Linked DNA regions of Homo sapiens: regions 2 and 3 are each linked to region 1. The links come from fine-mapping of genetic effects on gene expression. A gene starts in region 1. Each other region holds a variant in brackets. All regions are shown on one strand. Distances are from middle to middle. Region 1 holds the start of BDH1 (3-hydroxybutyrate dehydrogenase 1). Region 2 holds the start of LINC02012 (long intergenic non-protein coding RNA 2012). Region 3 has its middle 34 kb from the start of BDH1.

Evidence for each region. PIP is the estimated chance that this variant, and not a neighbour inherited with it, causes the effect.
Region 2: its variant is fine-mapped to the expression of BDH1 in prefrontal cortex (BrainSeq, PIP 0.95).
Region 3: its variant is fine-mapped to the expression of BDH1 in whole blood (TOPMed, PIP above 0.99).

Annotation. Positions count from the first base shown.
Region 1 is chr3:197,550,236-197,560,295 of GRCh38, forward strand. It overlaps BDH1 (3-hydroxybutyrate dehydrogenase 1), which reads right to left and starts at 5,733. Exons shown (of 8, transcript NM_203314.3): 1 at 5,546-5,733; 2 at 4,327-4,478.
Region 2 is chr3:197,506,685-197,516,744 of GRCh38, forward strand. It overlaps BDH1 (3-hydroxybutyrate dehydrogenase 1), which reads right to left. Exons shown (of 8, transcript NM_203314.3): 7 at 7,580-7,732; 8 at 3,099-5,680. The coding sequence ends at 5,211. LINC02012 (long intergenic non-protein coding RNA 2012) reads right to left here and starts at 2,977. Exons shown (of 1, transcript NR_145451.1): 1 at 1-2,977. RefSeq lists a silencer at 1,514-1,808 and an enhancer at 5,068-5,605. The variant C/T (reference allele first, on the strand shown) is at 4,985.
Region 3 is chr3:197,584,493-197,594,552 of GRCh38, forward strand. No RefSeq gene overlaps it. Among named protein-coding and RNA genes, the nearest start is that of BDH1, 34 kb to the left of the region's middle. The variant T/C (reference allele first, on the strand shown) is at 5,324.

The DNA.
Region 1 (10,060 bases):
GAGATGACACTCACATGGCTCGTTTCACAGGGACCTTCAATAAAAGCCAAGGGTCTAACATTAGGCACACCCAATGCAGACACCTTGATCGTCCTGAGAGACATTCCAGTCACCAGATTAGGCTTCGGTGGCGACCAGTTCTCCTCCGATAACACACCACATACACTCTGCAGTGACTACCTTTCGGGGGTCTGTCCTGCTCACCTGATGTCCCCTCCTCTCAGACCTGCCCCTCCCTCATAGGATTTGGCCTCTGCAGCTGCAGAGACTATGCTTTGGTCACGGAGGACTGAGCCAGGAAGAGACACCAGACCCAAGGTGAGCCCATTGTTCTGTCCCCTGGCACCGTGAGAGAATGCGAACCATGCTCTGTGGCGCAGGGCCATGCAATGGCGCTGCTGGAGGACGGCAGCTACACTCCACTGGGCCCTGAAGCCACAGAGAGAGGGAGAAAGCCGATCTGCAGGGGGTGGGGGGATAAGATGCTCATGCAGAAAGCAGCAGGGGTGGAGGTGGAGGGAGGGAGGGAGAAAAGCAACAGCAGCAGCAGCCGCCTCCCATCTGCCCCCCAGCTCCAGAAGCCATGCTGTGCCTTTACAGTCTCTGTGTAATTTAAGCAGGCTGGACGTTTCTGCCACTTGCCACCAAATCAATAGTAGCTAAAACTGAAGGCAGAACACTATTATTTTTAACTTTTTATTTTTATGGGTAGGTCGTAGTTCTATATATTTACGGGGTACTATTTTGATATAGGCATACAATGTGTAATAATCACCTGAGGGAAAATGGAGTATCCACCCCCTCAAGCATTTCTCCTTTGTGTTACAAACAATCCAATTATACTCTTTTAGTTATTTTTATATGTGCAATTAAATGATCATTGACTATAGTCGCTGTGTTATGCTAGCAAATACTAGTTCTTATTCATTCTCTTTAACTTTTTGGTACCCATTGACCATCCCATCTTCTCCCCACTGCACAGACCCTCACTACCTGTCCCAGCCTCTGGTAACCATCATTCTACTACATCTCCATGAGTTCAATTGTTTTAATTTTTAGCTCCTACAAATAAGTGAGAACATGCAAAGCTTGTCTTTCTGTGCCTGGCTTATTTCACTTAACATAATGACCTCCAGTTCCATCCACGTTGTTGCAAATGACAGATCTCATTCTTTTTTTCTGGCTGAATACTACTCCATTGTGTATATGTACCACATTTTCTTTATCCATTTATCTGCTGATGGACAGTTAGGTTGCTTCCAAATCTTAGCTATTGTAAAAAGTGCTGGAACCAACATGGGAGTGCAGATATCTCTTCAATATACTGATTTCCTTCCTTTTGGGTATATACCCAGCAGTGGCACTGCTGGATCCTATGGTAGCTCTATTTTTTGTTTTTGGAGGAACCTACAAACTATTCTCTGTAGTGGTTGTACTAATTTACATTCCCACCAACAGCATATGAGGTGTATTAATTCTCAGTTTTGACCCCTATTCTGAGAATGCCTCATTTATAATGACCTTATAACGACACTGGAACCTGTGCTTCCCCCATTCCACTCCTCTTCTGTCCTTCCCCAAGACAAAGTGTTACCCGAGCTGTCAAAACTGCCATAATTACAACTGCCAGATCAAGTGGGCATTTTTTCACTAGGAGAACAGGGCTTGCCTACCAAATTAAAGGCAGGCCACTAAACAACGGAGTCTCAGGACTCTGTTCTTGGTCTGTTCTCCGCACCATGACGAGCACTCATAGCTTTAAATACGATTCACATGCCGCCAACTCCCGAAGGTTGATCTCCAACCCAACCTTCTCCCCTGAACTCAGACAACTGCGCATCTAACATCTCCACTTGAATGTTTACTACGTATCTCAAATGCAACCTGTGCAAAACTGAGCCTGTGCTATTGTCCTGCAGACCTGTTCCTCTAAATCTTCCTCATTCTTGACTCCCCTTTCCTGCACACTCCACGGCCCAGTGCTCGGCAAGTCCTATCAATGCCACCTTCACATATATCTAGGATCCTCCGCTACCAGCCTAGTCCAAGCCTTCATCCCTTCTTGCCTGGATTATTGCAGTAGCCTCCCAACTAGACTCTCCGCTTCCACTGTAGTTCCTCCAGATTCTGGTCAACACAGCCTGCAGGATCTTGCGGAACATAAATCAGATCATGTCACGCCTCACCAAACTCCTGCCAGAGTAAAAGCCAAAATCTAGAGTTTGCCTACAAGGCCCTCCATGTTCTGGGTCTCCATTGTCCCTCTGACCTCATTCCTACCTGGTTCACTGCACTTTGGTCACAGTGGCTTTCTTGCTGTCTTTGGAACATAGCAAGCCAGCTCCTGCTTCAGGGCCTTTGTCCTTACTGTTCCCTCTACCTAGAACACTCTTCCCTCAATATCCACAGTCCTTTACTAAAATGTTTACTAAGACATTCTCTGGCCACCCCATCTATCCCACCCCAACCCTGACTATCCCCCTTCTCTGCTTCCATTTTTTCCTCCTCCTTGGCACTTTATTACATTATAGCATTCTACATGTTGTACATATTTATCTTGTTTGTTGTTGTTCAGTCTCATTAGAATATAAGCTCTTTGAGAACAGGAATTTTTGTCTGTTTTGTTCACTGTTGTATCTCCAACATGTACAGCAGTGCCCTGCACACAACAGACACACAATATTGATTGATTGATTCATTGAGATGGAATCTCGTTCTGTTACCCAGGCTGGAGTGCAGGGGTGCAATCTTGGCTCACTGCAACCTCCACCTCTCAGGTTCAAGCAATCCTCCTGCCTCAGCCTCCCAAGTAACTGGGGTTACAAGCATGCACCGCCATGCCTGGCTAATTTTTGTATTTTTAGTAGAGACGGAGTTTCACCATGTTGGCCCGGCTGGTCTCAAACTCCTAACCTCAAATGATCTGCCCACCTCGGCCTCCCAAAGTGCTGAGATTACAGGTGTGTGCCACCACGCCTGGCTGGTACATAATTAAATGAATTAAGAGAGTTTTGGCTGGGTGTGGTGGCTCACGCCTGTAATCCCAGCACTTTGGGAGGCCGAGGTGGGCAGATCACGAGGTCAAGAGATCGAGACCATCCTGGCCAACATGGTGAAACCCCGTCTCTACTAAAAATACAAAAATTAGCTGGGTGTGGTCGCTCGCGCCTGTAGTCCCAGCTACTTGGGAGGCTGAGGCAGGAGAATTACTTGAACCCAGGAGGTGGAGATTGCAGTGAGCCGAGATCACGCCACTGCACTCCAGCCTGGCAACAGAGCAAGACTCTGTCTCAAAAAAAAAAAAAAAAAAAGAAGAGTTTTAAGAAGAGGAGTGCCATTATCAGACTTACATTTTTAAAAAGGTAACTCTCACTGGGTTAATAAGTTGAGGATGGACTAGAGCAGAAGCAGGGAGACCCATTAGGATCTGTGGCAGTAATCCAGGGCCACCATGTGCAGTCATGAGGGTTGTATATTGCACCACTGCAGTGAGATGTGAAAACGTGTTCCTTAGAAATGTACACCAGCCTTGGTGAAAACCATGGAACTGATTAGAATTGGTAAGTCTGGCTTTATATTGAAGGTAGAGTCCGCTACCATTTACCAACAGATTGAGTGTAGGATATGAAAGAAGGAAGAATCAAAGCCATTTCCAAGATGTTTGGTCTAGGTGTAACAAATGACAGTAGTGCAAATGATTAAGCAGCCTTTCTATTCACAAGTGCTTACTGCATTTCAAACCCGAGGACACAAGCTGAGCCCCCGAGTCCTCACCTGGCTCCTCCAAACCGTATCTCCAACTATACTTTTCTCCTCTACTCATTCAACCGTTTGCTACACCATCCCTCAACAAGCCCTGTACTTTCCAATTTTCGAGCCTTGCTCATCCTATACCAAACTGACTGCATCTGACCAAGTCCTAGCTGGTTCAGATAACTCTCCCGAGCAGCCTTTTCTAATCCCCTAATTCAAAAATCTTTCGCCCAATCTCCTCCCTTCTGTGCCTCTGTAACTGCACCTACCTAGCCAGGGTCGTATTCGAGGGATTTCTGTTTATAAACATTCACAAGCCCCCATCCTACCACCAATCCCCACCCGGACTGTGAGCACCCTACAGACAAGACCCAAATGTTGAATCACTCTCTTCTTGCTCCTCCGAATATTTATTGTGTGACGCCTGACAGGAAGTAGAGGCTCTGTAAATGTGTATTGAGTGAATATGAAAGCTTCACAAATTTCAAGGGTCAGCTTCCTTGGCGGCCAGGGATATATACGCCCTATGCAGAGCCCGGCTCCAACGCCTCTTGTAGAAAGAAGGACACTGACCAGGACATTTGCAGCGTCACAAAAGATCCTGTCAGCGCGAGGCCTGCAGGCGGCCCTCCATAGTGAAATATGTGCTTCTGCAACCCCTCAAAGTAGGAACTGCAGGGTGACTCTGCATCAGCTGACTACAGGCAGATTTCCAGGCTGACTGGCTGGAAAAGAAAAAAAAAAAACGCGGAGTTCGACGCCGCGCGCAGCACCAAACACTTCCCCAGAAGGGCGCAGCCTGGAGGCGGCCGCGCGCAGGACGCACGCCCAAGGCGCCTGGGCCGCTAGGGACCGACCGGAGCGCTCAAACCCACAGGGTATCTATCAGGCGCGCGTCAGCACGTAAGCAGAGCGCGAGAACGCCCGAGACGGCGGCGCAGCCAATCCCAGAGCAGCGCTCCCCAACGGCCGGCCGGAGGGCGGGGAGAGAGGGGGGCTCGGCCAGAGCCACGCTTCCCATTGGTTGAGACAGCACCGCCCAGCCAAAGCCCCCTTGTCCTCGCGCGGGTGCGCCGCCTGGACTCCCACCCTGGCCAGTCCCGGGCCCACCACCACTCTGGCATCCCCAGCCTGTCCCCGCGGCTCCTCCTCCTTCCCCGGCCCTGTGGCCTGCCTGCTGTCCAGCATTCTTCCCCAGGGCGCTGTGGCGCGGAGGGAGGACTCCCCAAACCCCGGGAACAGAGCCTTGCGGAGGACCCCGGAGGAGGAGGAGGAGGAGGGACGCGGACGGGACTGGGAGATTCGGTCGGGAAGGGGACAGGGCCTAGAGCCCGGGGCTAGAAGGCAGGACACCTGGCTTCGGTCTGGGCTCGGCCTTTGACTACGACGTGACCTTGAGGACGGTTCCTTCCCTTCGTGGGGCCTGGGTCCCCTTCAGTAAGATGCGCCGGCAGGAAACGATGAGTCGTTTCACCTGGGAGCTGCAGGGCCGCGTGTTTAACCCAGGGCCTCCTCCTGCCTGGCACATTATTCCGAATAATAAATGCCAGATCATGCTGCTGGAGACGCCGGCAGAAAAGCCGAGAGGGAGACTCCCTGGGGTCTGGGCGCGATCGGCCATCCTACCCTTACCCCGCTGCGGCCGCAGGGCTCGGCCTGTAGGGCGCGAGCCCCCCTTCCCCACCCGTATCCCGGCTTCGGAGCTAAAGGAACACGTGAGGCCGAACCAAACCGAGTAGAGGGCGCCAGGGAATCCCGCCCGAGCTGCAGAGACGCGGACCCCTCCTCTTACCCAAAACCAAATGGGCAGGGGGCTCCGCTGCAGAGGGCTCGCCGAGGCTCTCGCCTTCACCCGGCGCCGCGCAGGTGCCCGCTCTCCTGCGGGGAGAGCCGAGGGGGGGCGCTGCCGCAGGGTCTTTCTGGAAGCCCCTCCACCAGCACTCCTGCGGCCTGCGGCCTCCGCCACCCGGACGCTTCTACACGCGAAGCGCGCGCTGGGGCTACGCTGGGCGGGGCTCACGGCGGCGTGGCTGTCGGGGGGCCGCCGAGCCGCCTCCTCCGCGCTGGGTGCCCGGCTGGCGCTCCTCCCGCCCAAGGTGCCCTGATCGCTAGGCTCCCGGTGCGGCCGTCTCGCCCCTAAGCCGGGCGCCAGATCCCCCGCCGCCTTCTCGCTCCCCGACCGCTGGGCGGGGGCGAGGGCCAGGGAGATGGAGCCAGGTGCGGAAAGGGTTGCAGCCTCGCGGGCTGAGGCCGGAGGGTGAAGGCGCCGCTCCTTGAAGTGAGGAAAACTCCGGTGAGGAAGAGGCTCTTTCCAGGTCCTGTGCGTGTTGCTGTCTTTAGAGCTCATTAGGGTTGGTTGGTTTTTAAATTTCTTTTGATCAGATGAATTTATTTAAAGGCCGGGGGCGGTGGCTCACGCCTGTAATTCCAGCACTTTGGGAGGCTGAGGCAGGTGGATCACTTGGGGTCAGGAGTTCGAGACCAGCCTGGCCAACATGGTGAAAACCAGTCTCTACTAAAAATACAAAAGTTAGCAGGGCGCGGTGGCGCACGCCTGTAATCCCAGCTACTCGGGAGGCTGAGGCAGGAGAATCGCTTGAACCCAGGAGGCGGAGGTTCCAGTGAGCCGAGATTGCACCATTGCACTCTAGCCTGGGCGACAGAGTGCTCCGTCTCACAAAAACAAAAAAATTAAAGATTTGCTTCTCAGGGTCTTTAAAAATAAATTAAGAATAGCAGTTTCCCAGAGTTTTAATAATAGAACAACGGAGGGCCATCGGCCACAGATAAGGGTTTCCTCCCAACCCCACCCCACTGCGCTATCGCCCTGCGCCAGCACACCTCAGTTTCCAGGATGAGAAACAGGCTGAGGAGAGAAGACACCAGGACACATTAGTGGCGAAGCTACGCGAAAGGAAAATAAACCTTGGGGCCCCCAAATCACTAGGCTAAAGGGGAAAGTCAAGCTGGGAACGGCTTAGGGCCAACCTGCCCCCATTCTACTCAAAATCACCCCCTGCTCACTGAGATAAATGCATATCTGATTCCCCCTTTGGAGAGGCTCATCAGAAACTCGAAAGAATGCGACCATTTGTCTCTCATCTACCTATAACCTGGGGGCTCCCTCCTTGCTTCGAGTTGTCCCACCTTTCCAGACTGAGCCAATGTTCATCTTACATATGTTGATTGATGTCTCATGTCTCCCTAAAATGTATAAAACCGAGCTGTGTCCCAACCACCTTAGGCACATGTCAGGACTTCCTGAGGCCATTTCACTTGCGTGCATTCTTAACTTTGGGAAAATAAACTTCCTAAATTGATCTGGCTCAGATTTTGGGGGTTCACAACTATGTTTAGGTAAAGTACAGAGAAGGAATGAATAGAATGAAGAGAATGAATGAAACTTGCAAATACAGGAAGATGAAAACAGGAGGAGGGAAGTACTGGCATGATGAAGATTTAAAGAAAACTGTAGACCGGGTGCGGTGGCTCACGCCTATAATCCCAGCACTGTAGGAGGCTGAGGCGGGTGGATCACTTTAGGCCAGGAGTTTGAGACCAGCCTGGCCAATGTGGTGAAACCCTGCCCTTCGTAGTGGATGCTTGTAATCCCAGCTAGGTGGGAGGCTGAGGCAGAAGAATTGCTTAAGCCTGGGAGGCAGAGGTTGCAGTGAGCTGAGATGGTGCCACTGCATTCCAGCCTGGGCAACAGTGGGAGACTGTCTCAAAAAACAAACAAACAAATAAAACTGTTGGCTCTGTCTGTCCATTCTGTGAGCTTCTGGAGAGCTAAGGCTATCTCCTTTATCCCCAGCTCCTGGCACATACAGCCTTGAAGACTGGGAGAATCAGGAAGGGAGGATGCACTTAGTTTTCTGTTCCCGTTTCACAGATAGACTCAAGCCTGGATTTGCTCCAGTGACGGTGTTTCAGAACATTAGGCATATAGTACCACAGGGTTAAAAATAAATCACTATACTAAAATTACGCCTTGAGGATTATGCTTTGCTAGAAAAGTAGTTAAAGGAAGAATTCTTCTTTACCCCAAGGGAAAAAACATAGATCCTGACTCTGAGAATTAAACTGAATTGTAGTCCTATTTGCATAAGACAGAAAAGGACATTTGACCTTTCTGAGGTTGTATTACACATCTGGCCTTACATCTTCCCAGCCCAGCTTTGCTGTGACAACCAGGTATGAACAGGTGTAACCTGAGAGCACCTTGCCTCAGCTGCACCTGGTATTCTGCGTCTCTGGCACTGCAACCTGGGACCCTTGCAGGAATCCGCTGTCCACTCTGACACATGAGTAAACCTGGAAGTGCAAAGGAACACCTCAAAGGACAAACTTTGACCAAAGGGCAGGCAGGAACTGCAGGAAAAATACTCTGCTCTTCCAGTCTTCCAGTGGGCAATTCTGAGATATGTTCTATGCAGCTCCTAAAATGATAGCATTCTGTTTGCCCATAGTAGTGACCGACTTGATCAACTCACGAATACACCCTTGGATGCCATTCTCTTTCCCTCCTTCCCTATTTGACTCTTCCCAGCCCTCCCCTCCAATTCCTTGGGATTTTGTTATGTAGCTTTAAATGATTCCGAACACTTTCACTTTTCTGTGAGAGTGATATTGTTTTACTGTGATTAGAACATGCAGGGAACTCTCCCTAGCCAAGGGAATGTCATGTCACACCTTATCAGACCCCGCATGGGAGCTACTGACCTCAACCACTGGACTCCAAACACATAGAAACCCAGGATTTTGACAGACGCTTGGAGAGCTTAGGATGTGGCGAGGCCACTCTCTGGAAGCCTTGAAGCTGTTTTTGAAGCCTTGTCTCACAACACTGGCACCGCTCTCTAGCAGCAAGAGACCTCACGTATCTTCATGGATCTCCATTGTATTAGTCAAGCTGTCCCTCCCGAGAACCTCTCCTAGAAAGTAGTGCCTCAAACTCTGATTGGACTTTGCATCCACAAAAGCCTGCTTTCCATCCTAAGTGGGCAATTGAACTTTTTTTTTTTTTTTTTTGAGATGGAATCTCACTCTTGTTACCCAGGCTGGAGTGCAATGGTGCGATCTCGGCTCACTGCAACCTCCGCCTCCAGGGTTCAAGCGATTCTCCTGCCTTAGCCTCCCAAGTAGCTGGGACAGGTGCCCGCCACCACGCCCAGCTAATTTTTGTATTTTTAGTAGAGATGGGGTTTCACCATGTTGGCCAGGGTGGTCTTGAACTCCTGACCTCAGATGATCTGCCCACCTCAGCCTCCCAAAGTGCTGGGATTACAGGCATGAGCCACCATGCTCAGCTTCAACTGAACTTTAATAATTGGACTCTAAATGAAATTGGAACTCATTCATTATGTGATTAATGTACCTTGTCTGTTGAGTGTATCCCCTGTGAGATTTGTTCTCATTATTCTCCCCCTTTTTAAGAATTGTGAAAAAGAAAGACCTCTTTGTATGGCAATAAACTGTGTGATTCATGAACTCATACTTTGATCTTCTCCTTATTTTAACCATACAAAACAGATTCATTCCCCAAATAAACTACCTATACACAAGTCCTTGCTCAGGCTCTGCTATTTGGGGGAACCCAGATTAAGCCAATGGTTAACCCAAAAGAGACATCTCAGCTTATCTTTCCCAACCCTGCTAAGGAAGAATTTATTTGTTTGGTTTGTGCTTTTTCTCCTTTATTTCCCAAAGGCCCTGCCCCTTAGGGCATCACGAGTGAACTCTGACACAGATAGTAGCAAGAGACTCCCAGGAGAAAGGGCCAACTGAGGAGTTGGGACTGGGTTAAGGGGTCAGACAAAGCCATTCTCAGCCCCACCTTCAACCTTTCCCCACCTTCTACCGTTCTGGTTGTTGACTTTGGAACTGGAGAAACATTCGGCTGTGAGGTTGAACACAGACAGTCTGTGGAAATCAGGTCACTCCCAACACTGCATGCACCAAGATTCTCTCTCCCTCCCCCTACTGTAAAACCACCTCCTCTCTGTTCAGGTACAAGGCCTCAGGCCAGGGTATTCAGCACTCAGCACACTCTCCTCAACCCAGGGAGGTACTGTTTGCAAATTAGCACGTTAGTTTTGGGAGGGAAACAGTCCTTAGTCCCTGCCTTCAAGGAGGTGTGAAAAGTAAAGTAGAGGTGAGTCTTCAAAGACTTTCCTCCCCTCTAATTAGGAATAAATAGTAACTTCTCTTAGAAGCAAAATTTATTCAAAGACCTGTGCTAACATTCTTAAAATCTGCTAGCCTTAATAAAGAAATCATATGTTCTTAGCTCCCACAATTTAGCCTA
Region 2 (10,060 bases), 44 kb before region 1:
GGCAGGTGGATCACCTGAGGTCAGGGGTTCGAGACCAGCTTGGCCAACATAGCGAAACCCCATCTCTACTAAAAATACAAAAAAAAAAAAAAAAATTTAGCCAGGCATGGCGCACACCTGTGATCCCAGCTACTCGGGAGGCTGAGGCAGGAGAATTGCTTGAACCTGGGAGGCAGAGGTTGCAGTGAGCTGAGATCACACCACTGCGCTCCAGCCTGGGTGACAGATTGAGACTCTGTCGCAAAAAAAAGAGAAGCCAGATAGCCGAGGTCTGGATCTTGTGGGGTCTGGATCTTGTGAGGTCTGGATCTTGCAGGGTCTATATCTTGAGGGGTCTGGATCTTGCGGGGTCTGGATCTTGTGGGGTCTGGATCTTGCGGGGTCTGGATCTTGGCTCTCTCGTTTCCTGGCTCTGTGATTTTGGGCAAATGACTTCACCTCCCTGAGGCTCAGTTTCCTTATTTGTAAAATGCAGACAATGGCACCGCCTAAGATATAATCCGTTTATGCAGATCAGATGAGAGATTTGCCACGAACTCACTTGAGTAGTTGGGAGGGGCACGTGCATGTGAGGAGTGTCAGCATCTCACCAAAGCTAGTAAACCTGTCTCAGAGCGCTTGGCGGCTTGAGGGGAACTCTAAAGACCATTCAGCCTGGTGTGTGTCATCAAGAATGAGGGATTGGATAACCACAGCTGAAACCTGTTCAGACAGCGAGGAGATGGAAATCTTGTCAAATGGGAGACCTGAGCTCTTAAACCTGACTTGGCCACTTCCAAATATCTGGAAGTCTATTTCAGAAGAGTTAAATTATTCTGTGCAGGTCTGGGTCATAACCAGGTGCCAAAAACATTAAGTGAGGTGGTAGATTTCGGCTCAGTCTTTGGATAAACGTTTCTGAACCAAGGAAATGGCTTCTTAGGAAGTAATGCACCCCCTGTCACTGGAGGGCTTCAAGCCCTGGCTAGCAGGCTCCTCATCCGGGAGCCTGGGAGTCAGGCATGATGATGGCTGAGTCCCCTTTCCTCCCCTGGGGTTGTGGGGGTCCTGGCAGCCTGTCCCAGCCCTGGTCCCTTGCTCAACAGCTGCCCACCCCGTGCCTCCGAATGCGCCACTCGCAAGTCACCCTTCCTTAGTGCCCGCACACACCAGAGAGGCCTCATATACTGTGGGGTTGTTTCATCTCCCCCAGAGCACCAGAGCCCCTCAGCCCTCTTGCTCTGTCTCTTTGAGCAGAAATCATCACTAACTTCTCAAGCACGGCGCTCATATAACCCTCAAGCCCTTTGAGGGCAGCTCCAGAATCCAGCTCTGCCTGCTTGGTCTTTGAATTCCTAGAGCCTGCTCTCGGGAATGGCCTTGACAGAGCCGACTTCCCGCTGGAAGGATACTGGGGGCTCCTCCAGCACATTCTCTCACAGGGGGCAGCACTTAGAGCCCAAAACGGGAAGGGAAGGAGGGTCTGGCTCGAGTGGCAGGACCCCATGGTTGCTACTGTGCGTAGGCTGAGAGTCTCCTCGCTGTTACGTAACTGAGGACTTCTTCCCTCCCTATTTTAGATCCTGCTGCCATCTGCCCTGATTTTCCGCATCACCAGCTCTGGGCTGGAGGTTAGATCTGGCTGGACACCCAGCTCTACCCCTCACTTGGTGACAGACTTGGGAAAGCCTGTTTCTGCAAAATAAGATAACCCCACCCTGCCTATCCTGCCTGGGTTGCTGTGAGAATCAGGTGAGAGGAAGCTGTGGTGGCTGGGTAGCAGGACCTGCACTTGGCCCCTGTGCCTGGTTGCTGTCTGGCCAACCCAACCTGGGGCTGCCTGAGCCAGGGGAGCCTCTGCTTGCTCATGTCGGCTCCTATATCAACACAGTTTGCACAGGTTTGCAGAGCCAGGCCCTGTTCGAAATACAGGCAGTGAACAGACCTCACAAATGGGGAGTCTTTGTCAGACCCCCTGCCATGGGTGGCAAGGGTGCAGACCTAGCAGCTTGTGACAGGCGGGGCCAGGCTGGCTGTCACCTGCTCACACAGCCTCTTGGCCCCGGGTGGAATGCTAAGCACAGCAGGTGCTCTGTAACAAGGCACTGTCAGGCGCATCTTGCAAGAAGCCCTTGCCCAGCCTCCAACCATCAGGGGATGGGTTTGTGCTGGCTGGAGTCACCAGACCATAGGTCCGCACAGGCAAAGGCCTCCTTCCTACTTACTCTGACAAGAAGGAGCGGCTCTCTGCCAGCAGACAAGCAGTGAGGGTCTAGGTGCCTGGTGACCCCAACTGGCTTTGCTTCCAGGGCTGTTGCGAGCCACAGTGTTATGTGATAGTGAAGAGTGCCACTCAGGAGACTTTTGTTCTGGCCCTGGTCCTGCCGTGGATTTACTGTGACACTGAGTGAGTCACTTTCCTTCTTTGGGCCTCAGTTATGTCATCTATAAAATGGGAATATACACCTGTTTTGTCCTCTCACTCTTTTTTTGTTTTGTTGTTGTTGTTTTGTTTTTTGAGACAGAGCCTCACTCTGTTGCCCAGGCTGGAGTGCAGTGGCATGATCTCGGCTCACTACAACCTCTGCCTCTGGGTTCAGTCGATTCTCCCTGCCTCACCCTCCCGAGTAGCTGGGGTTACAGGCGCCCACCACCACGCCTGGCTAATTTTTGTGCTTTTAGTAGAGACAGGGTTTCACCACGTTGGCCAGGCTGGTCTTGAACTCCTGACCTCAGGCGATCCGACCGCCTGGGCCTCCCAAAATGCTGGGATGACAGGTGTGAGCCACCGCGCCCGGCCACGCACTCTGGTAAAGACGAAAACTACGTCCTGCGCCCCGGTAGGTTCTAAGCTGCCGGAAAGTGAATGGTGAATATGAGGTTTGAGTTAGCACTGGAGTTATTTGGAGGGATGGTAGCCTGGGCTTTTCAATCACTGGAAACGATTAAAAGCCAGAACAACCTGCACAGGCCGGCCCAGCAGTTCTAGCTTACTCAGAAGATCCCAGTAGACGCACATGCAGCTTCTCTGACGTTCGGGTCTGCTGATGGGGACCCAGAGTATGTGGCCCTCCTTCCTCTAGTTCCCAGGCAGGGACGCACACGTGCAACTCCAAGGCTCCATCTATTTTCCTTTAATAAACTTCAGCACGGACACAAATTCGCCCAACATGTAAAAGTGCAATTCCGAAAGGATCCTGCTAGAACAAGGTCCACGGTACAAAAGCATCCTATGGTTATGTAACTGCAGCGGCCACCAAGCGTCCCCCTCTGGGCTCTGGAGGGTTTCGGCCCTGCCTGCCTCCCCCCCTCCTCCTGGGGCAGCTGGGACAGGGGACCCCTGTTTGAAGACAGCGGGGACAACGGCCCGGGAGGCAGCTGAATTGCCCATTGTGAGGCCCTTCTTCCTTGGCACTGCCTGAACCCCGTAGCCCACTCCGGCTGCCCGGGCTCTTCTGCCTTCTCCTGGCACCAGCCTCCGGGCCCGGGCCAGCTGCTAGGAGAGCGAGAACACTGTTTCTGAAGGGTGCTGCTTGCTTCTTTGTTCCCGGTTTCCGAAGCGCGAATCCCGAACGCCGTGAGAAACCTCAGGCTCGGGCGGCAGCGCGGGAGTCTGGGGCGCTGGAGGCCGGCGCCGGCTGCGGAGGAGGAGCGCCCTCTAGCGGCAGGTCCGCCCAGGGAGAGGCGGAAACGCGGAGTCTGATTCGAAGGCGGGCACTGGGGACCCTGCCCCGGGCCGAAAGCCCCCTGGAGGACAGTGGTGTTTGGCTTCGGTCCCAACATACAGGCCCTGGGCAGTCGCAGGGATGGCAGCTTTCAAACTGAAACCCAAGAAGTGATCATGCAGACCCTGCCTCAAGTGGCATCACTTCTTAATTGAAAAGAGGCCGAGGCGAGGCGGGAATGAAGGCCACGCTGAAGCCCTGCAGAACAGGGGTGTGTGTGTGTGTGTGTGTGTGTGTGTGTGTGTGTGTGTGTGTGTGTGTGTGTGTGTGTGTGTGTGTGTGTACATGTGTGTAAGGTGTGTGTGTGTGTGTGTGTGTGTGTGTGTGTGTACATGTGTGTAAGCACCACGTGAGGCAAGCAGGGACCCCAAATCCACTGCTAGGGGAGATGCCACAGTGCCCTGCCATGGCACCACTGCTCGTGCCAAGCCTGCCCCATCGACACCGGCCCCACCCAAGGCAAAACCAAGCAGACCCAAACCAGTAACAACTTATCCCCTTAGCCAGAGAGCACCTCCACACAAGTCTATCCTGAGTCCTAAAAGAGGATGGAAAAATCTCAAGTAAAAATCTCATGCCTGTAATCCCAGCACTTTGGGAGGCCAAGGCAGGCGGATCACTTGAAGTCGGGAGTTCGGGACCAGCCTAGCCAACATGGTGAAACCCCATCTCTACTAAAAATACAAAAATTAGCCCGGCATGGTGGTGGGTGCCTATAACCCCAGCTACTTGGAAGGCTGAGGCAGGAGAACCGCTTGAACCAGGGAGGCGGAGGTTGCAGTGAGCGGAGATGGTGCCATTGCACTCCAGCCTAGGGGACTGAGCAAGACTGTGTCTGGAAAAACAAAAATCTCCAGAAACATTCCCACCCCCTCCATACAGCCAGCTCTGAGTCACTGGCTGCTGGCTGGCCAGTCACACAGCACCATGGACATGCAGAGGTACCAGTGGGCACTTGGTGTGTGCTGCCCAGATGAGGACACAGAGTTAGTCAGAAGATTCTCGGGCAAATGGATCCAAAACAGTCCTGGAATGCAAATGTGAAGTATTTCCACAGCCGTGGCAGGAACACATAACTGGCACTATTTATAAGCGATAAAAGGGTTATTTCATGCATCCTCTTTAAGCTGCAAATGCTTCATTTACAAAAGAAAAAAACCTGTCCTTTTCATTCATGAGACTGGCTTAAGGATCAAATGAGATCTGTTTTTAATATAAAGATGTTTTCTTAAAATCTCTGTATGAAATTATCTCCGGAGAGATAGATTCACCATGTTTGC[C/T]CTGAGATTTAGAGGCCTCTGCCTGCCACTCCACACCCTGTTTGTGAAGGCCCAAGTCACTCACTATGCAAAGAAGTCATTCCCTCTAGTTAGTGTTAAAACCAGTTATGGGTCTTCCTGGCATGGTGGATAATCCACACGTGGATAATCAAGAGTTGACTATATGGGTTCCTCCCTCCCCTCCCCTTCCACCAGGGATCCCTGACAGAGGCCACAGCGAGACTCTTCAGCGGATGTAGATCATGTCGGAGATGGCTCCAGGCAAGTGGGTCATGATCTGCATTCGCAGCCACCAGTAGTAGTCCATGGGGTGGTAGCGGGTGTAGGGGGTGGTGGCGGTCAGGGCGTGTGTGACAGCATCGATGACAGGGGACGTGTCTGTGGAGCCACTGCTGCAGTAGGTCTCCATCTTGGCGATCTTTTCATCAAAGTACTTCTTGCCGTAGTCCTTGCGCACGACCTCAGGCAGCTCCTCCCACATCTTCTTGGCGATGGCCTGAATGCTCTCAGGGCTGTAAAGGCTGGTGGCAGCGATGAAGTTGCCGGGCTCCACCACGCTGACCTTCACGCCCAGGGGGTACATCTCATAGCGCAGGCAGTCCGAGAAAGCCTCTACCCCGAACTTGGTGATGCAGTACGGGGAGCGGGCCGGGTTGGCCATGCGGCCCAGCATGCTGCTGATATTGACGACGCGGCCTACAGAGGGAGACAGAGGTACCTGCTAAGCCGTTACTGCCCTATGACACAGCGGGCAGAAGTCTGGCATGTCTCTAGAGGCTTGGCTGGAACCACTTCTGAGCCACCCAGGAGCCTTCTCAGTCAATAGGCAAGGCCAGCTCAGGCCCACGCATCAGCATCGGCACCCCTGGTCTTCCCTGGGAACCTGGCTGTGCCAGGCAGGACAGGGGAGGACAAGTGAGTGAGAAGCAGCAGGGCACAGTGTAATGGGCAACACGCAACTGACTCAAAAACCAGATCAAGCCCGATGCGGTGATAATTTGGGGTGAAAACACGAGGGGAGAAGTGGGAGGCGAGACAGCTGTCTGTGTGGATCTGAGCTTTCACTATAGGCAAGGTCTGGTGCTGGTGAGGGAGAAATACAGCCTGAAAGCTTCCCCTTCCCCTTATGGAGCTTAAAGTCCAGCTCCAGTAGTACGACGTGCAGATAAGTAGCACACTAGGGCCAAGTGTCTAGCCACTGACAGCAGCCCTGGCGATGGGGGTTGGAGTGCAGACGAGGAAGTACCTGGGGCTGCAGCTGGGAGGGAGCCCCGGGACAGCCCTGAAAGAGGACAGGACCCGTGCTGTTAGGCCCAACTCCCCAACTCCATTCCACCCTGGTAGGGTGGAGCCTGGGTGGAGACCAGGACCGCCTGGCAAACAGAGCAGCAGGCAGGGGCAGGGGCAGGATTTCTGAACCTGACTTCAGGGCTAGGATATGAGGAGAGAGTCCTGGGCACTGGGAGAGTGTGGTGATCCCCCTCCAAAGGCCACAGGCCCAGCCTGGGGGCATCAGGGGCCTCCCACAGCTCCTCCTGGCCCTGGGAACAGAGGGGTTGGAAGTGGATTGCATTTGGCCCAGCCCGGGAAGCCGAGGCGGATCTGGGACCAGTTTTCCTGGGAGGGAACTCAGCCCATCCAGGTGTGTCCCGGGGAGGGCACTCAGCCCATCCAGGTGTGTCCCCGGGAGGGCACTCAGCCCATCCAGGTGTGCCCCCGGGAGGGCACTCAGCCCATCCAGGTGTGCCCCCGGGAGGGCCCTCAGCCCATCCAGGTGTGCCCCCGGGAGGGCACTCAGCCCATCCAGGTGTGCCCCCGGGAGGGCACTCAGCCCATCCAGGTGTGTCCCCGGGAGGGCACTCAGCCCATCCAGGTGTGTCCCCGGGAGGGAACTCAGCCCATCCTGGGGGAGGCACCTTTCAGAAAGCTCTAAATTTGAAGTCACTGAAGGGTTGGGGTTTCCATCTAAAATCCTACAGCTGCAGTCTGTGTTCATGCTTGTTGTTGCTAGGACTTCACCATAGATGTATGGATCTTACCCTTTTTGCCACAATTGTTTGCTATGCCAGAGAAAAAAATCCAAGTCAATGACTTCTAAAGTGGTTTGCTCACATTTGGCCACCCACATGGTTTGGGTGTTTTGTTGGTTTTCCAAATTTCTAATCTTGATTTTTACTATTGTTCCCTAATACCACAATGATCTCATTTTTTAAACTACGATATAAATAACCCATAGAATGAATATGCCAGATTTTACTAACCACACCTGACTGATACAAAGATGTGTACACACAGCTTTGTGCAAAGGGTGATTCTCTCTATAGATTAGGTGTGCAGAGTGGATGGCTGCTCAACTCTTTAAGCTTTTGCTGCATGGACCACTGACCTCTTACCTGCTCTGCTTCCTCCTCCCCTACCCGGCCACAGCCCCTCTGCCCACCATCACCCCAGGCCCAGCATAGTCCCTGGGATTCACGAGCTCACCTCTGCTGAGTTGTGGACATTGGAGCTGCTGGGACAGGTATTTCCATTCTGAGCAAAGATGAACACGTGGGGCAGGTTCAGGGGCAGGAGGGAGCTCCCTTTCCCACTCACCTTTGGCCCTTCGGATGAGGGGGAGAAAGGATTTCGTCATCCGCACTGTGCCCCAAAGGTTCACTTCTGCCACCTGCTTGTAGGTCTCCAGGCTGGTGAACTCCACCTCCCCGAACGTTGAGATGCCGGCATTGTTAACGAGGCCCCACATGCCTGGACAGGAGAGGGATAGATGTGCATTTACCACATGGGCTTGGCCCAGACATTGCCCATCAGCCTGCAGGCCAGCCTCCTCTCTGCTTCTTTCCTGTGACTTCCCAGCCTCTCGCCCAGTGCTCTCAAGAAACTTTCTAGAGTCACTCAGGAACGACAGGAGGTAAAGAGGCCTAAAGTGCTGACTGCAGCCCTCCCTTGCGTCTAGAATGTCCAGTCCTCACGTCACATCTGCCTGGCTCGAGTCTCTGGGCCCATCATGACCCAGCCTGCCGTGTCCCCCGGCCTTCAGTCTCACCTCACCTCAAATTCCCACTTCCACTCCACTCCACCCCATCCCATCCCCACACCCTGAGTTTGAGTTTCACGCCCCGTTCCTGTTTACTCATCTCTGCCCTTGAGCTTTTGCTCACGTCTTCTCTTCTCTTGCCAGAAGCCAGGGAAATCACAGGGGAGGTGGGCACGAGGAGGCAGCTGTGTTTTGCAGGGACCTCTCTGAGTTCAGTTTGTTGGGGTGCAAAGGCTGGATGGGTCAGAGCCTCAGGACAGAGCTGGGCCCTGCCTCTTTGTTGTGGAAACCCTCAGTGTTTGGTCTCCCGGGCCGATAGCCCCGTGCTCCTTCCCAAGGCACAGCCTCAGAGCAGAGCTCCCATCCTGGGGCCCTCCCCTGCCTGTGGGAACTCGGCGCTGCTTTATTTTCCAAGTTAATCATGGAAATGAGTTTGTGTAAATGACAGAGTAATTGGTCTCTAGCTGCTTTCCTTCCGTGTTACCCAAATTAAAGCTTCATTCACTGCCCTCTGGTGCCTTCTCCTTCAATTATGGAGAATTAAGGGCATTTATTAGGGAAAGGAAATTGCTGGTTAACAGAGTGTCCATGAAGAGCTCACTCCCACTCTCCACCAAAGCCTTGCGGGTGTCTCCCTGCTCTAGGTCTCACCTGTGACCTCGCTCAGATGCTAATGACAGGATCAGCGTCATCCACGACCCCACAGCTCCCACTGTCTCCCTGCAGACGCGCCCTGAGTCTTCACCTTCTTCTCTTCCCAGGAGGAGCAGCAGGCCACTCCCCACCCGTCATGGCTGACACTTCCACGTCATCTTCGAGACCATAGCCACTGATCCTTCTCTCTCTTTTACACAATTTCAGCTTTTCCACTGCCCATGACTCCATCCCTTCAGTTCTATACACATTAGGAGCTCAACAAATGTGTGTTAGATGAATGAGTGTCCACAAATACCGCATTTCCATATCCCGAAGATCCTTCTGTAACTGTGCTACCTGCTCTCCCTCCCTCCACGCCAGGCTTCCAAGAACTCTATCCTGTAATACAAAGATTAGCCGGGTGTGGTGGCGGGCACCTGTAGTCCCAGCTACTCGGGAGGCTGAGGCAGGAAAATCTCTTGAACCCAGGAGGCAGAGGTTGCAATGAGCCGGATCATGCCACGGCACTCCAGCCTGGGTGACAGAGCACGCACACACACACACACACACACACGCGCGCGCGCGCGCTCTATCCTCTCCATCTCCCTTCCATACCACACTGGGTCCCAGCCCTCAGCTGTCCTGACCACGCAGTCTCCAGGGTCTCCAGGGTGGTACACCAAGGACCTCACCCCCAGTCTTCACTCTCCTCAGGCTCGCTACGATATGAGTACTGCCAGTACTCCTTGAGGCTCACCTCTCCCTCAGCATTAGTGATACCCAGGCATCTCCTGCATCTTCCCTGACACCTTTCTTTCACCTGCCCCCAGATACAAGTGGCCCCCAATGTCCTGGCCTAATCCTGCTCCTCTCAAAGTACACTTAACTCTTAGGTGTCCTCATCTTCTTCATGTTTGTGAATTTTGCAGCCGTTTTGTGTTTGATTCATAACGGACAATATCCCATGACTTAAAATGCATACAGCCCTTTCTCTACCTAAAAATAAAACAATGACATTTGACGCTACTATCCAAAAAAGTTTAATGAAACATGACCTGTGAAAGTGCACAGCCCCTGGATTACAGCTTTAATGAGTGTTGAGAGTGGTGGACCTAGTTGCCATCTGGAATCCTCAGCCAATGTTCTGAATAAACTCACGGAGGCATGCCCGCTGGTTGGGTGACAGCAACTTTCCTGTAACATCCCCAAGATCGCCTCCGCACCAGTGGCCCCTCAGTTCTCCTTGGGAGTCACGGCTCTCTCTCCTCATCCCATCTCCTGTCTCGCTTCCACCTGAATGTCCCACGGGTCCCTGACTCACCCTAACCACAACCAACACGTCAAGTTTCCAAGCTGCCCAAGCCTGCTCCTCCTCTTTGTTAATGATTTTACTTTTGTCTGTG
Region 3 (10,060 bases), 34 kb after region 1:
GGGGATGGAGTCTCACTGTGTCACCCAGGCTGGGGTGCAGTGGCACCATCTCGGCTCACTATACCGTCCTCCTCCCGGGCTCAAGCAATTCTCAGGCCTCAGCCTCCCTAGTAGCTGGGATTACCGGCATGCACCACCACGCCCGGCTAATTTTTGTATTTTTAGTGGAAACAGGGTTTTACCATGTTGGCCAAGCTGATCTCGACCTCCTGACTTCAGGTGATCCACCCGCCTCAGCCTCCCAAAGTGCTGGAATTACAGGCATGAGCCACCATGACCAGCCTAATCTAACTTTCTCTTTAAACCTAATGCTTTTCACCCTTTCTCACATTTTTGCATTCATTCTACCCAACTCCTTCCAGGTGTTCCCAGGCCTTGCAGGTGTTCCCAGCGGTACTGGGGAAGAGGGGCTTCTTATCATGGGAGAGATCTCTGAAGCAGAGGGACATCAGGGGCCCTGATCTGAAAGGGAGCATCGGTCCACAGTGAGGTGTCTTAGAGACGATGCAGCAGCAACAGGCCCTCACGTCTGCCCCCGCTTCTGGGCATCTGCCCCTTACAGAATATCCACATTCCATTGGCCCCAGCACCTCCAGACCAAACACCAACCTTGAAATGTTGTCAGTGAGACTTAAGTTTTTCAGGTCCTTGGTAAACACAAAACCACCTGCCTTTTCTATTCCTCCTGCCTCTGTCCTCCTCCTAAAGTCATACTGTCCCTTTTGGGGGGTCTACAAATACAAATTCTTTCATTTCACTCCCTTACGCCAAAAGGAGAGCTTCAGTCATTCAACACAAATTTATTGAGCACTTACTATTTGCCAAGTATTAGTCTAAGTACTGGGGATAGCTGGAAAAAAAAACACACAAATCTGTGCATTTGCGGAGCTTAAATTCTAATGAGGGAGACAGAAAATAAGATAAAGAAATGAAGATTAACAGTGCAAATGGTAATAATAAATTCTAAGGATGAAAACAAGAGGGAAAGGAAGATAGGAAGTTACTAGAGATGAAGGGTTGGTGGTGCAGTTTTAAACAGTCTCAGTCCAAATGCAATATTTAAACAAAGACTTGAAAGAGATGGAGTAGTGAGCCACACAGATATCTGGGGGACAGGAATAGATCCAAGATTTGTGGGACCCTATGTTGATACAACTTTGAGAGCCTCTTTAAGAAATAGAATATGAAATTATCAATACAAAAGTGGGTACAAGGCCTTGGGAGGGCCCATGTCGGTAAAGGGTGAGAAGTTTATGCTCCATTAGTCTATTGGTAATTCTGCTTCTGCTGGAGGAAGAGCATCCCATGTAGAGAGAAGAGCAAGTGCTAATGGCAGGAGCTTGTGCAAGGAGCATGCACCATGAGTTAGAACAGCACCAGGAGGCCAGGGTATCTGGAGTGCACGAATGAGAGGCTGCAGAGGAGGAGACATGATCAGAGAGGTAGTGGAAGCCAGATTACATAGGATGACGCCCAGGTTGAATGCAGTGGCACCATCTCGGCTCATTGCAGCCTTGACCTCCCAGATCAAGTAATCCTCCCACCTCACCCTCCTGAGTAACTGGGACTACAGGCAAACACCACTACACCCGGCTAACTTGTTATTTTTTGTAGAGATGGGGTCTCACTATGTACCTAGGCTGGTCTCAGACTCCTGGGCTCAAGCGATCCTCCTGCCCGGGCCTCCCAGAGTGCTGGGATTACAGCTGTGAGCCACTGCTCCCAGCCACTGGCAGTTTTTGGGCAGGCGAGTAATATGAGCTGACTTTGATTTTAAAAGAATCTGTCTGGCTGCTATTTGGAGAATATGCTGAAGCATGTCAAGGATGGAAGCAGGAGACCAGTTAGGAGCTAGTTGGAATAATTTAGGAGAGAGCAGATGGTGGCTCAAGCCAGGGTGCAGGCAGCAGAGGAGTGAGAAGTAGCTCATCTGAGCACCCTCAGAAGATACAGTCCACAGGATTTGCTACTGGATCCTTTCTGGGTAAAGGAGAAAGAGAGATATCGAGGATGACTCTGAACATTTTGTCCTGAGTAACTGGAAGGATGTATTTCCATTAACTGAGAAGAGGGAAATTTGTTTTTGTTTTCATTTTTTGAAACAGAGTCATACTCTGTTGCCCAGGCTGGAGTGCAGTGGCGTGATCTTGGCTCCCTGCAACCTCTGCCTCCCGGGTTCAAGCGATTCTCTTGCCTCAGCCTCCTGAGTAGCTACAATTACGGGCTCCCGCCACCACATCCAGCTAATTTTTTTTGTATTTTTTAGTAGAGACGGGGTTTTACCCTGTTGGCCAGGCTGATCTCGAACTTGTGACCTCAGGTGATCCACCCTCCTTGGCCTCCCAAAGTGCTGGGATTACAGACGTGAGCCACTGTGTCCGGCCTCTTTTTTTTTTTTTTTTTTTTTTTATGAGTAGGAATAGGTAATTATTAAGCTAGATGTGTCCAGTTTACCAGAAAGGAAATTGAAAGGATTTATAGCATCTATCTTTAACTTGCCAGTCTATCTTCAAGTGATATTATAGTGTACACTAGAGTATAAGAACCCAACACGGCGAAACCCCGTCTCTACTAAAAACACAAAAATTAGCCGGGCGTGCTGGTGCGTGCCTGTAATCCCAGCTACTGGGGAGGCTGAGGCAGGGGAATCGCTTGAACCCGGGAGGCAGAGGCTGCAGTGAGCCGAGATCGCGCCACTGCACTCCAGCCTGGGCGACAGAGCGAGACTCCGTCTCAAAAAAAAAAAAAAAAAGAACCATACAATAATCCAATTCCTCCCCTCTTGACCTTTCTGCTGCCATTTTTACACTTACTTATGCCACAAAGCCTAGGCAACATTGTTCTTAGTTTCATTTAAACATTTATCTTTTAAAGAGATTTAGACAATAAGGAAAAGAACTTCTCTATTTACCCACGTAGTTGCTCCTCATTCCTTTGTATATACTCGTATTTTCATCTGGTATCATTTCCTTCTGCCTAAAGGACTTCCTTTAACCTTTCTTGTTGTGTGGGCACTTGGGATAAATTCTTTCAGCTTTTGCATGTCTGGAAAAAAAGACTTCATTCCACCTCCTTCATTTATAAAGGATATTTAAGCTGGTTATGGAATTCTAGTTAACAGGATTTTCTTTTCTTGCTGTACTTTAAGGGTTTTGCTTAAGGATTTTCTTTCCTTTTGCCTTTTCTTGTCTTTTCTTTTCAACATATGGGGTCTCATGTATTACCCACGCTGGCCACAACTCCCGGGCTCAAGTCGTCTTCCCGCCTCAGCCCCCCGAGTTGCTGGGACCATGGTGCGTGCCAATGCACCAGGCTTTCCACTGTTTTCTTGCTCACGTGTTTTTCCAATGGGAAATCTGGTGTCATCTTAATCATTGTTCATGTATACATCTTCCTGTTCCTTTGATTCTTTTTAAGGTTCTCTATTGAACATTGATTTTAAGCAATTTGATTGCGATGTCCCTTGGTGTCATTTTCTTCACATTTCTTATGCTTGGGGTTCATTGAGCTTCTTGTATTTGTGGGTCTGTAGTTTTAATCACATTTGGATTTTTTTTTTTGCCATTATTTCTTCCAATATATTTTTCTGTTCTGTCTTACTTTTACTTTCCCTGAAACTGATTTTTGACTAGTCCATATGTAATGACATGTCTAAAATGTGCTGGAAAAAAGCATGGGTTTTTCTTTAAAGATCTCCCAGTGAGTTAGTTTAGTTGTTTGTTTGTTTTTTGGCAGTCACATTGGCTAAAGTGAGGTTTAAATATATATATATATATAAGTAGAATGTAAATAACTGCTATTCTTAAAAAAGAAGCAGCTGAGGTAAGAGGATTGTTTGAGGGCAGGAAGTTTGAGAGATCAGCCTGGGCAATGCAATGAGACCCTGTCTCTCCAAAAAAAATTAAAAGTGAGCTGGGCAGGCGCAGGGGCTCCTGCCTGCAATCCCAGCAGTTTGGGAGGCCGAGGCAGGAGGATCGCTTGAGCCCAGGAGTTCAAGACTACCCTGGGCAACATAGCAAGGTCTCATCTCTACAAATACAAAAATTAGCCAGGCGTGGTGGTGTGTGCCTGTGGTCCCAGTCATGTGGGAGGCTGAGGTGGGAGGATCACTTGAGCCTGGGATACTGCAGTGAGCTATGAGCATGTCACTACACTCCAGCCTGGGGGAGAGAGCAATACCTGTCTCCCAAATAAATAAATAAAAATTTAAAAAAGAGAAGAAGAAAGAAGTGAAAAGGAGAAAAATGATGAATAAATTTGAAAGCAGAAAATATTTAAACATTTATATGGGAAAAAATACATGTTAACATGTGTTATATTTATACTTATATTTTTACAGGTTATAAATATATACTATATATTTATGTATGTAAATATTTGTATTTCATATATTTGTATATTTTAGACATATCCTAAAGGATATGAAGAGATAAATGACAAAAAGTGGGGAGGAGAATATTTGCAACACATATGACAAAGAGCTAATTAACTTAATACACAAAGACCACTTAATATACAAAGATAAAAAAAATGTTGGGCTGAGCGTGGTGGCTCACACCTGTAATCCCAGCACTTTGGGAGGCCGAGGCAGGTGGATCACGAGGTCAGGAATTCAAGTTCAGCCTGGTCAACATAGTGAAACCCTGTCTCTACTAAAAATACAAAAAAAATCAGCTGGGTGTAGTGGTGGGCGCCTGTAATCCCAGCTACTTGAGAGGCTGAGGCAGGAGAATCACATCAACCCAGGAGGCGGAGGTTGCAATGAGCCAAGATCATGCCACTGCACTCCAGCCTGGGCGACAGTGCAAGACTCCATCTCAAAAATAAATAAATAAATAAATATAAATAAATGTTAAAAAGAAAGAAATGAGCAAACGATATAAACAGGTAGTGCACAAGAAAAAATGCAAACGGCTAAGAAACATATATAAAGGTGTTGAACTGTATTAATTTTTTAAAATACACAAAGTTACATATACCATTTTTCACCAGCAGGTTGACAGAGACTGGAAACTTAGAAGTGACCCACCCCTAACATTTGCAGGGTTAAAGCAACAGTACAAATGTGTACCCCTGTATCATACAATTACATATAGGAAAACTATAAATCAGGCAAACAGGCCAGGTGCAGTGCACGCCTGTAATCCCCGCACTTTGGGAGGCCGAGGTGGGAGGATTGCTTGAGCCTAGGAGTTTGAGACCAGCCCGGCTAACAGAGAGACCGTGCCTCTACAAAAAACAAAATAGCTGGGCGCGGTAGCGCGTGCCTGTAGTTCCAGCTACTCGAGAGGTTGAGGCGGGACGGTCTCTTGAGTGACAGGAG[T/C]GTGTGAAAGATCTTTAATAGATATTTTTGAGAAAAGCTAATTAAGGATCTGATGTATACTACGACCAACTGTATGTGTGTACATCTACATATCTATATCTATCTATAGCTGTATATATATATATAAAAATATATATATATATAAAAATATATATATATATATATAAAAAAATATATATATATATATAAATATATATATATATATAAATATATATATAAGTTTATGCTTACATTTGCTAAGAAATTTTCTAGAAGGAATTACAAGGGAGTTACTAAGAGAAGGGATACATGGGGCAGTTTTTACCTCATACTTCTGTCTGTTCAAATTTGTCAGAGCATTTGGTACTTCAAAAGAAAAACAATAACCGAAAAATACACTGAAATTTCTCAGACACATCTTGTAACAGCCTCTAGCCTCCATCAACACCAGCAACCAGAAGCGTCTCACTGTGCAGGCGTTGCGCCAGGCACTGGGCTACCCAACCACAATCAGAGTTGCCTTTCCAGGCCCATGGAATTTTGTTCAGCCAGTGGCTGCCAGTTAGTTCTCTGTCTTTGTTTCCAAGGTAGCAGGAACCCTACAGAAACCAGGAGAAAATATGTCACACCCCTAAATGTGTTTTCTTCACAGATTTCCCTAGAAGGCTGCCAGCCTGGGCAGTGGGTGAGAAGCCGCTCTGCTGGGTTACACATGGCAGGCCCAGCGCCCTGCAGGCTCAGGGAGGAGCTCTGCCCTGACCCAGCCGAATCTCACCCATGCAGGTGGTGGATCAGAGGACTTTCTGTGACTAGGAAAACAACTCAAAGGTCAGCCCTTCCCAGCAGTGAGTAAACACCCACATCCCCAGTTCTGAGAGAGGCCTGCAGAGGTGGCCTCTTCCCTAGTGAGAAGTCCTCCATGGCTAGTTATGGATTATTGGTCTGGGGGCTTCTGGACTTCAAAGACCAGCTGGATTAATCTCTGTATCCCGGTGCTTGGCACAGTGCCTGGCACATGGGTGATGTTTGCTGAATTGCCATCAGGGCCTGTCTCTTCTCCTGCCACTTTCCACACCTCTGCAAAGAGGTAACTGCTCTTGGGCTGATTCCCTGGAGTTTGAACCTCACCTCTCTGAAGGGGGCATCCTTTTGCAGGATGTGCACTGTACATCCAGGAAAACACACCAGATGAGGAGCTCCTGATGACTGGTTCACACTAATTTTGAGAACTTATCTCAGAAAATTTAGAAAATGAAGATGTCTAATAAAATACAATAAAAATTCTATTCCCCCTCCCCTTCCTGCTCTAACAGAACTGTTATGCTCCCCTGCAGCCATCTCAGGTGGGGAAAGTTTTTTGTTTGTTTGTTTATTTGTTTGTTTTTGAGACAGAGTCTCACTCTGCAGCCCAGGCTGGAGTGCAATGGCACAATCTCGGCTCACTGCAACCTCCCCCTCCCAGGTTCAAGGGATTCTCCTGCCTCAGCCTCCGGAGTAGCTGGGATTACAGGTGTGAGCCACCACGCCTGGCTAATTTTTGTGTTTTTAGTAGAGATGGAGTTTCACCATATTGGCCGGGCTGGTCTCAAACTCCCAACGTTGTGATCCGCCCGCCTCAGCCTCCCAGAGTGCTGGGATTACAGGCATGAGCCACCACACCCGGCCCTGAATGCTTTATCTCCTGGAGTAAATGTCCTCTTTGCTGACGACGGCCTCTTCCAGGCCATTCTGCCACTCGTGTGTCAGACTTTAGGCAGGATTTCATTGATGGACTGACCTCCATAGCCCCTCAGTCTAACAAGGAGACAACAATGGTGCTTTGGGTCTCCAGGTATCAGTTTCAACTCAGTCACTACATCAAGTAGCCCTCCGGACATCTGGGGATTCCTTTTTCTTCCGTGTACGGTCACCCAAGTACACGGCCACGGGTCCCCCTAGGGAAAGACTGGGGGAATCATTACACTCTTTTCTTGCCGGTGTTGCCGAGTTCATTCTTAGAGACCCAGCCACCTCTTCAGTCCATGGATTCCAGATCGGAAAATTGGCTTAGGTCAAAACAACTGAGTAAGGGACTGTAAGTTTGTATTAGGGCTCTGAGCCTCCTGCGTCTCCACTTGTGCCTCTTGCTGGCTGGAGGCGTTAGGCAGCACCTGTGTAGGTTGCCCATTTATTCTGCCCCGGGAGATGCTGTGCTCTGTGGACCACAACTCCCTGTGGGCCGGGCCTGGTTGGCTGCATGACTAACTCTGCAGGTCATTATGACCTCCTGGCATCTGGAAGCCAAAGGCCACCACCTGGCCTCTATGCCTGGGGGTAGAGGGGCTTCATTGCCATGGGTAGCAGTGAGCCCAGCTCTGTGACCAGCTCTCCTGTTTAGTGAGGTTGGTGCCTCTCACCTGAGCATTCCTGATGGTCGTGGTCAATCACCTGTTCTCTGGGCCCACCCCTCATACTTACCCCCACCCCCGGTGGCTCTTCTGGTCTCAGATGACATAGCCATCCCAGCGTGCCCACTTTCCTCAGGCTTTTTGTGTTTTCACTACCATCTTCCAGGGCTACTTAGTCATGTCCGTTGCCGCCATTGACACTGGCTGCCACTTTCTCCGGGCTTCTAAGAGTCACCCTTGAGTTTGTCTCATCACCTGGGGTCCTTACCAGGGTATTAAATTCGGCATCCTGAGAAAGCACCCCAAGGGAACTCTGCTAGGCCCAGGCTCCTTGATCAAGCCCCCAGGAGTGAGCAACCAGCGGCGTGTGCTGAGGAAGCCACGGCCTGCTTGCTAACCTCCCACCTCGTGCGTGCGCTGCCTCCTCACTTCCTTCGTCCTTTACTCTTACTTTCCTGGAACTCACTTCCTTTCGTCCTTTACTCTTACTTTCCTGGAACTCACTTCCTTTCGTCCTTTACTCTTACTTTCCTGGAACTCAGCCCCGCTGCCCAGAAGCACACAAGCTTTGCCTCAGGCTCTGTTTTCTAGGGAAATTGGGCCAAGGCAGAGGTCTTCATGATTTCACATGTTGTAAGAAGGGGGGAGGCTCTCATCCTGGCCCTGGAAGTGGGGGGTGCTCATAGTGAGTCCATCTAGCTAGGGATGAAAACGGAAAACTCAACGTCTATGGAAAAACACAAGGATTTGGAAGCGTCACATAAAGACTTAATCAATACAAGTTCAAACTATAATCCCTCCCTGAAATGACACAGCATTTTTCCACTGGAAGCAGCTGGGGGGCTGGTGCTGGGCTGCCGTATCTCCAGGCAGCAGAGGGCAGGGAAGGAGAAGGGCAAGAGCTCGTACCTCGGGTGTCCTTGGCTCACCGCCTGTGCTCCATTTCTGCATCTCTCGTGGTCCGTAATACTCCAGATCCTGCCACGAACAGGGGCGAGGGGAAGAGGAACTGGGCTCAGAATTGTTAAGAAAGACTTGATTTAGGAGAGCTGTGTCTCCGCACGGAGGTGGGATTGCTCATTAGGCAGAAGCTGGTGACCACCACACCAGGTGCCTTAAGATTTCAAAATCACAGGCCAGGCATGGTGGCTCACACCTGTGATCCCAGCACTTTGAGAGGCCAAGGTGGGTGGATGACCTGAGGTCAGGAGTTTGAGACCAGCCTGGCCAACATGGTGAAACCCTGTCTCTACTAAAAATACAAAAATTAGCCGGGAGTGGTGGCAGGCGCCTGTAATCCCAGCTACTTGGGGGAGGCTGAGGCAGGAGAATCGCTTGAACCCAGGAGGCAGAGGTTGCAGTGAGCCGAGATGGTGCCACTGCACTCCAGCCTGGGTGGCAGAGCGAGACTCTGTCTCAAACAAAACAAACAAACAAACAAATCACAGGTGTATGGAGGATGCACCTGACAGCAATAACTTAAGCATACCCTGAGAATGACCCTAGGCCTAAAAAGAATGTGTTTGGAGTTCTGAGCTAAGGAATCGGGAAATGGGGCCAACCTGGAGACTCATTCCTTATCTGCGAGGGGCATCTGAACCCCCCGCCCATCCTGTGGAATGGAGGCCATAGAGGGGATCCAGGCCCTTTGTTTTGGGTTAAAGGAAGGTTGCCAGGTGGAGGTTGCTAGGGGGAGGGTGCTAGGTGAAAATGCTATATAAACTGCATGCTTTTTACGAGTGGTTGCCATTCTCTGGTCCAGCCTGCTGCCACTGGACTGCCCTGTATGTAAGTCCCCTCAGGAAGCCCTGTGTCTCAGTCACTGGCCCCCAGCCTCTTCTTTGGCGTCTCGAACACACTACCAACGCTACTGCAGTCAACAGGGGTCTGGCACGACAGCAGGGCTTGCTTTTTTTGCTGTTATCGTTGTTGTTGTTGTTTTTGAGATGGAGTTTTGCTCTTTTCACCCAGGCTGGAGTGCAGTGGCGCGATCTCAGCTCACTGGAACCTCCACCTCCCAGGTTTGAGTGATTCTCCGGCCTCAGCCTTCCAAGTAGCTGGGACTACAGGCACACACCACCACGCCCAACTAATTTTTTTTTTTTTTTTTTGTATTTTTAGTAGAGACGGGGTTTCATCATGTTGGCCAGGCTGGTCTTGAACTCCTGACCTCAGGTGATCCACCCACCGGCCTCCCAAAGTGCTGGGATCACAGGCACGAGCTACTGCACCTGGCCCCAGGCTTGCTTTTACACAAGTTCAACCCCAGACACCTTCCAAGAATGGCTTCGTAGTCAGCAAGAGAGGAGGCACCCTATAGCACTCAGCTAGAGACAATATCACACCATATCCAGCAGGAGAGAGAAAGGTC